Regions from separate parts of the Homo sapiens genome. Here regions 1, 2, 3 and 5 are each reported to be linked to region 4. The links are microRNA targets in miRTarBase. Many come from high-throughput screens and were not tested one by one. Region 4 holds a microRNA gene; each other region holds the end of a gene's coding sequence.
The links. Region 4 holds the annotated microRNA hsa-miR-1-3p (UGGAAUGUAAAGAAGUAUGUAU, at 3,007-3,028, opposite strand). A microRNA usually pairs through its seed, bases 2 to 8, with sites in the 3' UTR of a target mRNA and lowers its output. Matches are read on the target gene's strand: a 7mer-m8 pairs with bases 2 to 8, a 7mer-A1 pairs with bases 2 to 7 and ends in A, and an 8mer does both.

Region 1: the mRNA of PWP1 is a reported target of hsa-miR-1-3p. Seed matches in the 3' UTR shown: 7mer-m8 at 345-351.
Region 2: the mRNA of USP33 is a reported target of hsa-miR-1-3p. Seed matches in the 3' UTR shown: 7mer-m8 at 2,390-2,396.
Region 3: miRTarBase lists HERC5 as a target of hsa-miR-1-3p. The part of its 3' UTR that is shown has no 7-base or 8-base seed match.
Region 5: miRTarBase lists ZNF215 as a target of hsa-miR-1-3p. Seed matches in the 3' UTR shown: 7mer-m8 at 1,238-1,244.

What each region holds. Positions count from the first base shown.
Region 1 is chr12:107,711,995-107,714,994 of GRCh38, forward strand. It overlaps PWP1 (PWP1 homolog, endonuclein), which reads left to right. Exons shown (of 15, transcript NM_007062.3): 15 at 117-1,168. The coding sequence ends at 226. LOC124903010 (a long non-coding RNA gene) reads right to left here. Exons shown (of 2, transcript XR_007063446.1): 2 at 388-436. Among named protein-coding and RNA genes, the nearest start is that of PRDM4-AS1, 23 kb to the right of the region's middle.
Region 2 is chr1:77,694,854-77,697,853 of GRCh38, forward strand. USP33 (ubiquitin specific peptidase 33) reads right to left here. Exons shown (of 24, transcript NM_201624.3): 24 at 1,134-2,621. The coding sequence ends at 2,464. Among named protein-coding and RNA genes, the nearest start is that of ZZZ3, 14 kb to the left of the region's middle.
Region 3 is chr4:88,505,509-88,508,508 of GRCh38, reverse strand. HERC5 (HECT and RLD domain containing E3 ubiquitin protein ligase 5) reads right to left here. Exons shown (of 23, transcript NM_016323.4): 23 at 2,346-2,836. The coding sequence ends at 2,631. It also overlaps the pseudogene NCOA4P2. Among named protein-coding and RNA genes, the nearest start is that of PIGY, 17 kb to the left of the region's middle.
Region 4 is chr18:21,826,009-21,830,351 of GRCh38, forward strand. It overlaps MIR1-2 (microRNA 1-2), which reads right to left and starts at 3,080; the gene lies at 2,996-3,080. All of the region lies in intron 12 of MIB1 (MIB E3 ubiquitin protein ligase 1), which reads left to right. MIR133A1HG (MIR133A1 host gene) reads right to left here. Exons shown (of 3, transcript NR_110369.1): 3 at 1-3,444.
Region 5 is chr11:6,956,182-6,959,181 of GRCh38, reverse strand. ZNF215 (zinc finger protein 215) reads right to left here. Exons shown (of 7, transcript NM_013250.4): 7 at 1,135-3,000. The coding sequence ends at 2,651. It overlaps LOC102724711 (a long non-coding RNA gene), which reads left to right. Exons shown (of 3, transcript XR_002957236.2): 2 at 2,655-2,941. Among named protein-coding and RNA genes, the nearest start is that of ZNF215, 31 kb to the right of the region's middle.

The DNA of each region.
Region 1 (3,000 bases), not on the chromosome of region 4:
TACTCACTTTACCATTTATAAAGTACTAAGTGCACAATTCTGCATTTTAGTGTCTTTTTATATTCTGACTTAATTTCCTGATCTGTTAGTTTCTTACCTGTTTATTTGTATTTTAGTAAATGAAGCATTTGGAAGACGAGAGAGGCTTGTTCTTGGGAGTGCAAGAAATTCATCTATTAGTGGCCCTTTTGGCAGCAGGAGCTCAGATACACCCATGGAGTCTTAATGAAGATCATCTAATTTCCTGCTTACCTTAACTGGGAATTTTAAAAAGTTGGCCTAAAAATGTTCCATGCGTGGCAGCAACCATGCAGAGTGACTGAAACACAATTCATTTCTGACTGACATTCCTTTCTGCAACTGCGGTGGCACCACAAATATCCGGTCTTTGTGCTTGCTCTTCAGATGGATGGTTTGTAAGGCTCTTGTTGCATTTCTTAAAAAAGAGTAATAAAAAGGATTTTTAAAAAGTAATTCCTTAAACATACCATCTGTCACAGTTAATCTAGATTTGTAAATAGGTAGTAATTTATAGAATTTTTAAAGCGTAAAATCCGGTAATATTAAAAGATAGGTAAACCTAGGCCTGGAAAGGCTGTTATTTGGCTAAAATTGCACAGGAGGCCATGAACAGAGGCAAGTGCCCCAGAGACTCCACTTTCATTCCTAACTGTTCTCAAATTAATGCTCATGATTGAGTATTCTCAGTGCAACTCGTAGAGTTTGATAAGTAAAAGTTACATGCCCCTGTTTTCCTAGCATGATATTCACTGTTATCAAAGACAAGAGGCAGACCATTCATTCATTCTCAAAACACTGAATGCCATTCTGTGCCTAGTGCTATACAAGGCATGGGAGATTCAGTGTGAATAAGTCTTTGCTCTCCACCTAACAAGGGACAGTTTTAATTATAGATTGTCTTCCTATTAAGTATGAGTTTTAGTAGGCATTAAAAATCGTAATTAGTTTGATAATATGAGACCCAACCCTAACTTGCCAGAAGAGTAATCAGTTCATGAACCATTGATATTTCCTGTATATTTCATGAATGTGACTTCAGTCATTCTAGTGTTAATACTGTGGAATGTCATTGGTGTAGCAACGTGGGTTCACCAAAACACCTTTTTATACAAAAGACAGATGTGTGAATTAAAGAGATTAAAGGATAGAGTATTCTGTTTCTTTGTTTTGATTTGGCTTTTAGGTATTAAAATAAGGCCCAGATCACTAAAAATTAGTAACAGAGGGAGACCTCTAATAGATTTAAAGTCAGTTAATTCTCTCTGAAATTTGATGTTTTCTTCTATAAAGAATAACTCTAAAATAGGCATCTTCCCAGGACTTTCCATTCTCAGGAAAAGACCTAGTTACGTATAAAAAATAACTTCTACTGCTTTATGTAGTCATATAGGTCTGCCTAAAATAAGAATTTGTATTTAATAAATACCAAAATTTTCAAATGGTAAATGGGTTGACACCTCTGTTTCCAACTTGAAAGTGCTAGTGCGATGAATGCTAAGCATGGGGTGTTTTCTGAGCCAAAAGAATGTGCCTCTGAAGTAGCTGGTTAGAGCAGATCTGAGCACCTGGGACCAGAAGAGTGCTGGCCGGGACCTGCAGTTACTGCTAAAAGACAGTGCAGGCAGTGGGTAAGACATCTGAGTAGACAGGCAATAGGGGTAGTCAAGCTGTGGGAACTAGGTAAGATGGGGATTAAAATCCAAGCCCAGATTATAAATGTAAAAGGAGGCTCGATTGTGTCATACTGACTGAGGAAAGGGTTCCACATCACTTCCCACCGTGGGTACATTTTGCACCTAAGTGTGGGTAGATCTGAGCCCAAAGATGTGTGGCTTAGAATGCCTGTCTACCATAGAAAGTGGGGGAATGACAGGTAACATTTTCACCACTGGTAGTTTGTTGGTGACTGGTGTTTTCATTACATAGCACATGGAAATGCCATGGAGCCAAACATATTTGTCAAAGTGAAAACCCGATACTAACTTTTAAACAATTTTACCCAGATGGCTGGGCACGGTGGCTCAAGCCTGTAATCCCAGCACTTTGGGAGGCCAAGGTGGGCAGGTCACCCGAGGTCAGGAGTCCAAGACCAGCCTGGCCAACATGGTAAAACCCCGCCTCAACTAAAAATACAAAAATTAGCTGGGCATGGTGGTGGGTGCCTGTTAATCCCAGCTACTTGGGAGACTGACGCAGGAGGATCAGTTGAACCTGGGAGGCGGAGATTGCAGTGAGCCAAGACCATGCCATTGCACTCCAGCCTGGGCAACAGGAGTGAAACTCCGTCTCAAAAAATAATTACCCAGATGTAGGCAGGTGCCAGCTAATTATATCTGGGAATTCAGATTCTGCAAAACCCACTGTTTATAAAGTAGAAATATCAACTTCTATGATACTATATTCTATGAGCATTATACAGGTAGAACTTAAAGGCCTCAATTTTTCAGGACAACCCAAACTACATCTTATGAAGCTCTTTTCAGTAAAGGTGGTATATGAAATGTATGCTATACTCTTACATACTCTTTTAGGTGGAGGAGGTTTTTGTTTGTTTTTTGTTTTTGTTTTTTTAGACTGAGTGTTGAGTTGCCCAGGCTGGAGTGCAATGGCATGGTCTCGGCTCACTGCAACCTCCGCCTCCCGGGTTCGAATGATTCTCCTGTCTCAGCCTCCTGAGTAGCTGGGATTACAGGCATGTGCCACCATGCCCAGCTAATTTTTGTATTTTTAGTGGAGATGGGGCTTCACCATGTTGGCCAGGCTGGTCTCAAACTCCTGACCTCAGGTGATCGCCTGCCTCGCCTCCCAGAGTGCTGGGATTACAGGCATGAGCCACCGTGCCCAGCCAAGGGAGGTCTTTTCAAAGTAAGTACTTTTAAAACATCCTGTCAGAACAAATAGCCAGATTTTGTTTCAAAAACAACTTGTTTCATACTTCCATTTCTAGATGTGACAGTATAGCTTAAGCAAAAGCTGAAC
Region 2 (3,000 bases), not on the chromosome of region 4:
GAAATAACTTTAGTAAAATGACTGAAACATTCTAAGTTTCAATAAATAACAATCATTAAAATCAAATCTTTTTTGACTAACCACTAAATACTAGACAATACACTAAATTCTGGTGATTCACAAAAAATCAGTAACATTCAGACCTTGAGGAAGATCATATTTTACTATAGTAGAATCATATTTTACTATATATTTTTTAAAACTTCAAATAGATCTTAAATGGCTGCTTATTAAAATTCATTTCATTAAACATCAAAATTTTACTACACTGATTACCAGCCCAAGCAATAAAGTCAGACTTTACAAAAAATAAAACAAATTATCCAGGTGTGGTGGTGCACACCTGTGGTCTCAGGTACTCAGGAGGCTGAGGTGGGAGGATCGCTTGATCCCAGGAGATGGAGACTGCAGTGAGCTGTATTCAACGCCAGGCACTCCAGTCTGGGTGACAGAGCTCGAGAGACCCTGTCTAAAAAAAAAATAAAATAATAAATAAAAACCAACTTTACTAGACTGAATGACTTGTTTGCATACTTCTGATTAAGAAATAACAAGAGGCCGGGTGCAGTGATTCACACCTATAACCCCAGCTTTTTGGGAGGCCGAGGTGGCTGGATCACTTCAGCCCAGGAGTTTGAAACCAGCCTGAGCAAAATAGCAAAACCCCATCTCTACCAAAAAAAGAGATAAAAATTAGCCAGTCTCATAACCCAGTCTCAAAATAAATAAAAATTTTAAAATAAACTGGCTGGGCACAGTGGCTCACACCTGTAATCTCAACATTTTCGGAAGCCAAGGCAGGTGGATCACCTGAGGTCAGGAGTTTGAAACTAGCCCAGCCAACATGGTGAAACCCCATCTCTACTAAAAATACAAAAATTAGCTGGGTGTGGTGGCTCATACCTGTAATCCCAGCTACTTGGGAGGCTGAGGCAGGAGAATCACTTGAACCTGGGAGGCGGAGGTTGCAGTGAGCCAAGACTGTGACACTGCATTCCAGCCTGGGAAAGGGTGAGACTCTGTCTCAAAAGAATAGATAAATAAAATAAAATAGGAACAGCAAGAAGGTATTAATATTAACAAACTTTGCACCTTTTACCTTTAACATCTATCAAATAAATTCAACATTCAAGTTTTACATTTTAAAGACATTTTTATTGAGCTAATTTTAACAACATTGCTTTAGCTGGTGACAGCTGCCCCAAACCAAAACAAAGCCATCATGAATGCTATTCAACATCCTCAATGTAATCCAGTATGTTTTTGTACTTGGAATATAGTTAAACTTTTGACATTACATAATCAAGCAAATAGCAGTGCATACTATATTATTCAAAAAGACTTTATCTATTTCATTTAAAAAATCAAGTTGCAAGTGGCCTCAGCTTTATCAACAATCGTAGTGACACATTCCACACTTCATGCTCTCAAAATAAAAAGTGCCCTAAAACTAACTCTAAGTTTTTTAGTCACTGACATTAATACTAACCAGGTTACAGGAATTGAAGTTTAACATTGTACAATATAAGCGGCAATAAGTTACTGATATCTGCTGACAAATTCCACTCAAACTAAATATATCCTTGATACATTCAAAAAGACATTTTGTAAATTTTAATAAGCTAGTTAGTGTATATGCTGCAGTGCAAAAAAAGTGACACCCTAGTTTCCTGAGCTTTAGGAAATTAACAATTTTCTGACTACTACTTTCAACTTAAAATAGGCTCTTTATTATATGAAGCCATGACAAAACTATACAATTAAATTGGGCTTTTGGAGAACTGAAAGACTGGTCAGAGTCAGGGTGATTTAGGACAATGAAAAAGTTTTCAAAGCAAAAGTATTTACAACACTACAAAGGATACTATGGATCTGCATGTAGTGTAAAGATTAAAGATAACCTACTGATTTCACAATTGTCCCTCCTCTTTCAAAAATATTACACTGGGCCAGGCGCTGTGGCTCACACCTGTAATCCCAGCACTTTGGGAGGCCGAGGTGGGTGGATCACCTGAGGTCAGGAGTTTGAGACTAGCCTGGCCAACATGGTGAAACCCCATCTCTACTAAAATACAAAAATTAGCCGGGCATGGTGGCAGGTGCCTGTAATCCCAGCTACTCGAGAGGCTGAGGCAGGAGAATCGCTTGAACCCAGGAGGTGGAGGCTGCAGTGAGCTGAGGTAACACCACAGCACTCCAGCCTGGGTGACAAAGCAAGACTCTGTCTCAAAAAAAAATTACACTGAAAGACTTTATGGTAAGTATTTAAAACTAAATATACCAACCTGTGGTATATTACACATTTTAATATATTCTTCCATAATGCCCACTAAGAAGAAATAAATGGGATAAATGATGAAAAAAAATAAAGCAAATAAACACGCTTTTAGGAATGTTTTCGCATGTGTACATGTCAGGGCACATGAAAATGATTCCTCATTAGAACTCTCTACATCCTAAAAATTACAAAGACCGAGTTTCTACTTCAATTTTTTCTTCTGCTTGAAGTATATCTGGATCAACATGAACAACCGGAGGTCGCAGGATAACTTCAGGCCCTCCACCATAAATAGACTGCAGAAAATTCCATGTTTCTTCAGAAATCTGGCCAGAATCTGCTCCTTAAAATTACGTAGAAGAAATAATGTTTACAAACCTATATATTCATATTGCAAAAGCGTTCATAATGTACCCCCCAGCATGAATCTTCTCGGGATAATTGAGAACTTCTGGAACATGAATCTGCAGACTACCAGCCCATATTGTTATAAGCTGAAACATATGGCTTGTCTTAAAAAGTCAGAGATGCTTTTGCTTTGCTCTTAACAACAGCCTTAAGACCTTTCCTCAGATAAAAAAAAAGTGGCTGCTTTTCATTACTTGCCCTAGTTAATGTATGGATTACATTCTTCAGTTGAATAAAAAAGTACTATAGATGACTAATGATAACATATTTCTAACAGTGACAAATCACTCACAAGTAAAAGCTTAAATACGAGT
Region 3 (3,000 bases), not on the chromosome of region 4:
TGTTTCTGGGTCCGACCAGTTAGCTTAGTCCCTTTCCTGCCTAAATTTGAACTAGTGAAGAAAAATACATCATCGGATTATGAGTTACTATTTAAACAAAAAATGCTGAGGTGACTCAGTTCTTTCCTTTTTACAGAAGTATTAATTCACCCCACACTAGAAATGTAGCACCTTGGTGGAGTTTTTCACAAGCCTCCCACACTCCTTAGATTGGGTTATTACTAAAAGTACATTAAAACACTGTAGTTTTAAAAAGAAGTATTTCTGTAATTGAAGTGTATTGTATTCTAAAGCTAGTAAACTTCCCTAACTTTTAATTGTTCTTTAGCTGCTTCTCTTGCTGTTTTCTTCTATTAGAGGCTGAAATAATTTTTCTCTTCTATTAATATATATTTTGCACAAAAAATTAATCCTGCCATTAGTGATTACCAAAACATGTACTAATAATCTTGGTAATTTTTGACACTAATTACCAAACATTTTAGCCTACATATTAGTTTTACATCATTTTTCTTCTTCACTTGAAAGAAACTGAGCTACTGCAATGTTTTTCTTTATTCCTTTTTCTAAATCAAACTTGTCCAACCCATGGCCCACAGGCCCCAGGATGGCTTTGAATGTAGCCCAACACAAATTTGTAAATTTTCTTAAAACATTATGAGATTTTTTTTTTTAGCTCATCAACTATTATTAGTGTATTTTATGTGTGGCCCAAGACAATTCTTCTTCTTCCCATGTGGCCCAGGGAAGCCAAAAGATTGGACATCCCTGCTTTAAATGTTATTAGAGTATCCAGTATTTAGTATCCTTCTAAAAGTATCCCTCTTTTAGAAGGGCTCTGTATTAAGACCATTTTCAAGGTAGTTTTAGACTCTTTTCAAAATATTCTATAGATCTACATAGGGTTTAAAAGAGCCCCAGTGCTGACTAAGAGCAAATAGGTAAGACACGTTAGAAATGTAGTGTAGTACTTGAACCACTCACTATCCTAGGGATTACTGGTGTATCCTCTGTAAATGGAAGCTGAACTTGACCCCTGGTGCTTTTAACTAGGGATAAAGTTGTGCTCTCACTGTAGGCACAGCATTTCTGTACCTCCAAAAGTACAATGCAGCAACATTTTAGTAAACAGGCTGCTTACAACACTTGTACCTTGGGGTGTTCATTGAAGCTTTATGAAAACCGATGTTTTCTCAGTATCTTTAAACTCATGTCCATGCTTTAAAAAGTCTCCAGGAGAGAAATGGGGTTTATAATGTTTTAAAATTCTCTAAGATATCTTCACCGCTTTCCAGACTTTGAAACTATGAAGTTTCTCAAATGCCTATGTTATTGGAAATACTTTTGGGAAAATGTCATGGTCCCACAATGTCATTGTCATACAGCTTTACTAAAGTTCTTTGAACCACAGCTGAAAAGAGCTTTGTATTATTCCTTAAGCCCCACCCAGATTATCATTTAGAACTATTATAATAATAAAGATGACGGGTAAAAAAAACTTAAGGACGGCTGGACACAGTGGCTCACGCCTGTAAGCCCAGCACTTTGGGAGGCTAAGGCCGGCGCATGACCTGAGGTGGGAAGTTTGAGACCAGCCTGACCAACATGGAGAAACTCTGTCTCTACTAAAAATACAAAATTAGCTGGGCGTGGGGGTGCATGCCTGTAATCCCAGCTACTTGGGAGGCTGAGGTAGGAGAGTCACTTGAACCCAGGAGGTGGAGGTTGCGATGAGCCGAGACAGCGCCATTGCACTCCAGCCTGGGCAACAAGAGTGAAACTGTCTCAAAAAAAAGAAAAAAGAAAAAAAAAAACCTACGGAGTCTTTCCAGTATCTTCAGTTGCAGCTAACTTTGTAGTTTCTTTTTGGGGCCTAACACACTGTATTTTACATTATCAAAGTGTAATTTACATTTATCACTATGTTAATGAGTATGTACAACATTCTTTTGCTTGGATGCATTTTGTACCTAACTCCATTAAAAGCATAACAGCATTTAAATAAAAAAGCTTCCTCAGAAGCTTCTCCCAATAACTGTCACCACTGCCACCTGTCCCTACCTTGAAGAGAGGCTGGGAAATGTATGATTTTAAGACTGAGAACAATGCCACTCCTACCATATAGGGAATCTGTACTGAAAGAAGGGGAGAACAGATATTGGGTAGATAATTACAAGTTTTTTAAAAAAACTTCTAAGGTAAAGAGTATCCCTTCAGGCCAAGTCATGCAAACATTGTGTGAGAGACACAGCTTAATCTATATTATAATTGATATATCTTACATGCAATGATAGCAATTCCAAAAGAGCTGGTAAACACATTGAATAGTGAATAAGACTTTTATGTTAATTTTTCGGTTATTTTATTTTTGAAAAATATTTCCCAAAAGAGGTAAGGAATATGATGTAGGCATAGGGGTATCCAAGGGAGAGAATACAGTCACGGGTTCTAACCGGCCAGTAAACCCTCTTCTTCATCCCTCTTTCCTGCTTATCACTAGAGACAGAAATGAAAAACCATGGCTTCAGGCTGCTAAAAGCCTAAAACAAAACAAAGTAGAGAAACAACAACAACAACAACAACAACAACGATAACAACAACAAAATAAGGCTGTTGGACAAGCAAGCTGGTCAGCCAAATCCTCTGTTGTTGTTGATGGCTTCTTGAAGCGCTTCTTCAACTGTTTCCATTGTAGAATATTTAGGGAGGAAGAGGACACTGAAACATGTCAGTGCTCTTATAGGGTCTCTTTCATTCCAACTTTCAGGACAGCAAAATGTTATTTTCATATTATTTAAATCTTTCATTTGTAGTCTGTCAGTTCCTGTAAGAAATACTAAAAAGAAGAATAAAATTAGGCAATCTGTTTTACATGGAGACCAAAATCTCTTTACAGAGAAAAAAATCTATTTATTCACAAAACTTCACTGGAGCCCATGTGCAGTGTCCTACATTTGACAGTGCATTGGGGATTGTATTCGAACAATGTCTGACACATAG
Region 4 (4,343 bases):
TTTGTTTTCAACATCTTTGCTTCTTTTTCTTTTTCTAATCTTGTCCACAGCCGAAGTCTTTGCTTAATTCTTACATGTAGACAATAAGCTATTTCAAAACCAATAGTATTTAAAGGAACAAATAGACCTTGATGTATTTTAGAGTAATGTTTTCCATTTATCTCTAGGCAGCAAACCAGATAAATAGTTAAGCTAAAAGGTTGGGGAAGAGTTCAGTTAGTCACCCCCTTCTACTGCCACTGCTTCTTTTAGCATTATAGTTGAGGGCTAATAGCAAATTGTTGATGGGTGTAGGAATATCAGTGGCCTTAAGAAAGTACCTCTGCCCTTTGATTTATAAATAGATCACATGTGTATTCAGTGTATTGCTTGGACTTGTGTCGAAAGGAACTACCATGCATGCCAGTTTTTCTTTGTTTTTGCTTACGTGGTGTTACTAATCATAGCTTAGTAATTTAACCCTTTTAAAGGTCTATTTCCTTGACTAAGTTCTTTGTCATTTTGGGTACAGATTGCCAAGTTACTTCTCATTATCGCCTTAGTAATACATGGTGGTTAGTTACAATCCATGGATACAAGTATTAAAATCTATTGTGTGGATAATACTTGAAAAATCAGAGTAAATTTTTGTTATAATGTGGTTTTACTGTTGATTTCAATGTCTTGAGAGGGGTGTCTTCTTGCATAAAATAAAAGTTTGATAAATTATAATTTGCCTATAAAGTTAAGTGCTCTCAGAGAAATATAGAGTAGAGAAATATTCTTTACAGTTACTATTTTAAACTGAGAGGTCAACGCTAATTCAGGCAGTATGCAAATGACTCTTACACTAAGTATATTCTGCGTCTGTTGGTTGGTAAGTATCATACTGCTGGTGAAATTAACTACAATTCTTTTTCATCATTTTTTCTAGTAGAAGTGAAACAGGTGTTAAACTGCCTAAACTTAAGTGCTGAAGATAGCAATAATACTGGCTTCTATTTTTACTAGTTATATGGGAGCTGTTTAGCAGATCCAGTTGCTCAAGTGTGTTTTTGGATGGCAGTTCAGTTTCATATACTGGCCATATCGGGGCAAGGAGAGGCCATGGGAAAAAAATAGTACAGCATTTGATAATGTCAGCATCTGTTATCCCTGTCAGGGAGACAGTTGAAATGTTTGAGTTATACCAGTGTCAGCAGATGCCCAGAGTTTAATATGTACTCAGTTAAAAATGAACAGCTGATCTAAGTGATAGATGTGACATTTTAGAGTGATTGAAAATACTCTTAGATAAGTTAAACTCGCAAGCACCAGAATCAGCATATAATTTTACTTTTAAAAATGAATAGCCTGTCATTTTATTTTCTAAGGATTATTTATATAGTCTTAATATTATAGCAAAGAGAGTCTTAGTTGCTAGGATGTTTGAGAAGGATTATTAAACAACTTGTATACCTATAGAATGACCAATATAACTGTTTATTATAAAACACAAGTAGAGTAATAAGCTTTGAGTATTTTTATAGAAGAACCTCTACTTTTGAGGTATATATTTTGAGTTCTTGGTATTTAGGACCTATACAGGTAAACTTACCAAATAGAACATGAATCATTGCCATTCTGTTTTGTGGATGATCAGAAGGGCTATGCTTATGTGAGTTAAGCTTTGAACTAATTTCTTTGAAAGTGTAGAATTTTAAAATTATGTGCCTTTTATAATTTCCAGTAAACATGCAGTAACACATATGATGCCATGTGTAAGTCATTCTCATTCTTTATAATCTGATAAAATGAAAATCATCTTTGTATTAACTAGTCTTATTAAACAGAAAATGAACTATAGTTAAACTTAGTCATTTCCATTCAATTTCTGATACAAAAAATTTAAAATATTATGCTTTTATACATGTGTAAATATTTCAGTTGAAATAATACTTTTAGTAAGAAATGGTTAGAATATGTGAATATTACTCTTATTTTCTAACTTTGTCATTAGTAGCTTAAAACAGGTACTGCTTATAAATTTTGCTAAGAGCATTATTTGGAATTTTTTATAAATAATATACAAACTGTGTGAAATAAAAGTATTTTGATATTTCTAAACAATGGATTGATCAAGTTTAGAGAAATTGAATTGTAATTGCATAGTACAATAAAAACAGTTCTTCGATCTGTATAAATTGGTTCTTGACTATAGTGCTTTCATTTTACATGCCCTCTTTGGAGAAAGCAAATTCGAAGATAATACAGATAAATTAATTTCTTTTAAATATTTGGTAGTCTGTTACCAATATACCCTGCTGACTTACAGCTGTGGACCAGAATTTTGTCATTTTTCATGCTTAAATCTTACATTTTAATTAATTTTAAGTTTTAACTTCACATTTAAAGTAGAGATTTGGGTTAAGACCCTGATAAACTTGAGAAGGAAGGACAAGGGCCACTATGTTTGTAGCTGTCAAAAAAGAAAGCCTTTTTAAAACAACAAAACTTTTGGTCAGAAATTCCTCTAATATTAATTATACATTTATCAAAATGAGAAGAAATAGCTTATTATGTGAATGAAGCCAGCTCTTAGTATCTTATTTTTCTGTACAAATCAGTGAGCCCTACTAATGAGATATACTTAAGATTAAATTGTGGAGACAGAAAATAGGTCATGTGTATTCCTCATTCTTTTGTGCTAGTAATACTATTTTCCCTTTTGCAGTCAAATTTTAATAATGAGAGTGCCTAATTTAAAAATGTAAGATGTCTGTTTTAAACTTAGATGATTTAAAAGGAGTTTCATGATAATTGAAATCTACTTCACTGGATCTTCTTTTCCTTCATGAAATAAAAACCTTAGGGATAGTTTCTATCTATCAGTAGTAGATAACCTTTTTTTTTTGGTGTTAGTATTGCCAAAGGTCATCTGTTCATGACTAGGTTAATTTACCATATGACGGTCATTCACGTAGAAAGAAGCAAGAGCTTCTTTTAGCTCAGTTTAATTCTCCCTTGGTGGTTTATTGCCTACCAAAAATACATACTTCTTTACATTCCATAGCATTGTATGTTCATATGGGTACATAAAGAAGTATGTACTCTGAGTAGGTATTACTAAGTTGTTAGCTGTAAAAACATGAAATATTTTATTTTCTTATTTGTTAGTGAAACATTCAGCTTACTAATGTAGAGCAATGGTAAATCATTTGCAGAGACTAATTTATCGAAGACTAAATTTTGTAACAAGTTTACCTGAAGCATGGCATTAATGGTTCCATATTCTTGGTGGACATAGACATTCCTAAGCATTTGACCAGTTATCTGTTGAACTTTGTCCTGGTTTGATTCTTTTTGCAAGAGATTCAAAGAATCAGTGTAGTGTTACAGAGTGTATTTCGGAAACTTAAGATCAGCCTAGTGTTTCTTCAGTCTTCAGAGTGAATTTCTTCTTTTTTTGTAGTCTGCTTCTAGATCCTACAGGTAGATAGTAATTAATTAAATTCAATTTTTTTTTTACAAACTAGATATCTTACTCAAAACCTAACAAATTAACCAATAAGTATTTCTGATATTGACTCTAGAAGTTGAAACAACAAGGAGAAAAACCAGGATGAGTGTGGGTGAATTGAACTTTTTTAAAGATTATGAATTTTTGTTAGTGTTTTATAAGGTCACAGATAAGAACTCGTGATCATTTGAAAATTTGTCATTCTTTTTTCTTTATTAGTTCCTTACCTGAAGTTTGCACTTTGATGCTTCTCTTTGGGTTAAATACAAATATGAGTTGAATACAAATTCAAATAGATGTAGAAATATCTAATTTTGGTGAGTTTAAGTTGTTTTGATTCTTTAATCTTTTTAGTATAAAGGATAACTGTCAGAATCGTCAACTTTTAGAAAGTATCACTTCAAAGAACTGAAAGGTTTTAGTCTGTGAGCACCTGGGTTTTATTTACCTTGATAGTTTAGAATGAAAAGAAATTATAGTTGGTAAGTAGCCTTCAGTTATTGTGGTATTAGAAGGTTAATTTAAAACCTCAAGAAATTTTCAGATTTGTCAAAGGAGGAAAAAAAAGGGCAGGGATAGTAGAATTTCTGCAGCTTGTGATAAAAAGCTAGTGCAGCTTATAGAGAGCAAATCAGAATGTAGCAGTAGATAGCCCAGCACTACAGCAGTTTCAGCAATGCAGCATTAGAATTACACCATGCACGTTCTGATTTATTTTTGTGGCCAATTATTAGTAAGCATTAAAAAGTATTTTATGATCTGCCAAGTTTCTTGGTTGACTAAACCTTGAAATAGAAGCTAATAGTTTTAGAAAATAAGTATACTTTGGAAGCAGGATGTGACTTACTAGAGATGCAAAATCATC
Region 5 (3,000 bases), not on the chromosome of region 4:
TGCCAGACACAATCTGGTTAATCTACACTCTTCATGTTTCAGCTTAGATATCGACCTTTGATGGTATATAGTAAAACTCAAATATGTGATGATTAATATTGAGTGCCAACTTGATTGGATTGAAGGATGCAAAGTATTGTTCCCGAGTGTGACTGTGAGGGTGTTGCCAAAGGAGATTAACATTTGAGTCAGTGGACTGGGAAAGGCAGACCGACCCTCAATCTGGGTGGACACAATCTAATCAGCTGCCAGTGTGGCCAAAATAAAAGGCAGGAGAAATTGGAACGACTAGACTGGCTTAGTCTTCCAGCCTACTACTTCGTCCAGTTCCGGATGCTTCCTACCCTTGAACATCAGACTCCGAGTTCAGCTTTGGGACTCTTGGACCTTCAACCACAGACTGAAGGCTGCGCTGTCAGCTTCCCTACTTTTGAGGTTTTGGGACTTGGACTCTTATGTAAAATTGGGACTTGGCTTCCTTGCTCCTCAGCTTGCAGGCAGCCTATTGTGGGACCTCACTTTGTGACAGTGTAAATCAATACTCCTTAATAAACTCCCCTTTATATATACATTTATCCTATTGGTTCTGTCCCTCTAGAGAACGCTAATACAATGTACTAAATAAACAGGCTTGTGAAACAAGGCTGCGAGAAGATGTTAATTGGCTATAAATGCTCTGCAAGAGCTTTAAATGCACTCCAAAAATTATTATTTGAAACTATGTTATGTTAAACTTAGTGAACATAGTAAACACTTTTTTAAGAAAGCTTGGAGATTTAGGAGAAAAAAATAAGTATTTTACTTAGGCTCAAATAGCTAGTTGTTCAAAGAAAAGATAAAGAGTGAAAATAGTACTTCTATCTTTCAACCATCCAAAAGAAAATCACAGCTTATTTTCAAAAATTGAAATATTGGACTTGGAATACCTAAATTTAAAAAGTCAGAATCCATTGTATTTAATGTAAGTACTATGATGAATGAACATACCTCAAGAATTTTTTACATTCAGAGTGCTTTTCTCTTGTTAGGCTTCTCTACAAGTTATCTCTTGTTTATACGAATTTCTATATCAATTACTTATGTAGGGCTTTGTCCTAATAAAACTTGTGTTGCAATATAAAGGATGAACAAACATAGATTTTGACATTATTTAATCATAGGAGTTCACTCCAGTATACCTTTTCTGCCTTTGAATAAGGTATGAACCTTCACAAAAAGCTACCATCATCATTAATTGGGAATGTCTCCAGTGTGAATTTTTTGGGGCAGATTAAGTCATACTTCTTGGCTCAAGAACCAGATGGGATCCTGAGGTAGTTTACAGAAGACACAGTTCTGGTGTACAGAGTATAGGAGACTTTAATAACTTCATAATGTCTGGTATAAATGATATACCTAAGGCTATGGACGTCTCTCCAGCCTAAATTCCCAAAGGTACAGTAAGTCTGCACTGAACATCATCAATAGGTTCTTAGGAACTGCAACTTTAAGTGAAATGATGTATAACAAAACCAATTTTACCATAGACTAATGGATACAAACAAGAGTTAAGTTCCTAAGGCAAATGTCTGGTCACAACATCATCAAACTTCTAAAGACCCCAAACGCTTCCAATATCAGACATTAAAATAAATCTGAGCTATATACACATTTAAGACGGATTAATAAAAACAGATAAGATAATTATTTACCCTGTTATTCCAGTACAGGGCCATGGGTGGACAGAGCGCATCCTAGCAGCTCAGGGCAATGGTGGGAACAAACCCTGATTAGGAGCCATTCCACTGCAGGGCACACTTCCTCACAAACTCAGACTGAGATAATTTAGATATGTCAATTAACCTAATGTATACATCTTTGGGGTTTGAAACTGGAGCACCCGGAGACATAGGGAGAGTGTGCGAACTCCACACAGTGTCCCTGGCTGGGAATCGATATTTTTCTCATCAACATCATAACAATTATAACATTATAACAAAACAAAAACATTTTTCAAGGACCTGCTATAAACAAATGCAGATTTTAAGAATACATATAGATTAACAGCAATACATACTTCTCCCATTGCAGTTGATAACCCTTTCCCAACTCTAGTCTCCATTCAACAGCAAGACAACAAAGGGTATTGTCAGGAGTGGAGTAAATGGCTGTTACTGTTGTCTTAGCCATTGATTCAGAGATTTCTGTCCTTAGAAGTATTCTCTTATATTCGCATGAGCTAATGATTTCTTGTGACCTTCTTAAAAGGGCTGAGTTTTATTAAATATCAACTCCAAGAGTATTGTTTGGCTTTGCCTAATGTCTACTTCGTCAATAAATCAGGTGGATATTAGTATGCTATAGACCTATTTATGAACTAGGGAGAGGTGAGGGTAATGGATATCAAAATAATGATAAACAAATACTTGTATGGTGATACTGTGGTTTAACTCCAAAGCCTTATGGCTTCATCTGAAAACCAGGAAAATTCCTTCAAACAGATTTCTATCCAATGATATTTCTATCCAACATTAATTCTGTGATATCATTTAAAGAAAAATCTGACAAATGTTTTCTTACATTATATTCATGAGATTTTATCCAGCATAAATTCATGATGTTAAATGAGTTCTGCATTCTGACTGAAGGTAATCTTTCATTTTTTCTTTTTTCAGGACTTATCTCGAGTATGCAGTTTTTGATGTTTAACAAGGTTTGAACTCCTGTTGAAGGCTTTACTACATTCCTTACATTTGAATGGTTTCTCTCCCGTGTGAATCATTTGGTGTCGAATAAGAGAGGAGCTCCGGTTGAAGGATTTTCCACAGTTAACACATTGATAGAAATTGTTTCCAAAATGGAGTGTTGGATTATTACTGTCTTCACTTTTACTGAAGGCCTTTCCACATTTATTGCTTGTGCAGGCCTTTGCTTCAGCATGAAGTTTTTGATGCTTAGTAAGGTTTGTACGTCGGTTGAAGAATCTCCCACATTCACTGCATTTATAGGGTTTCTCTCCTG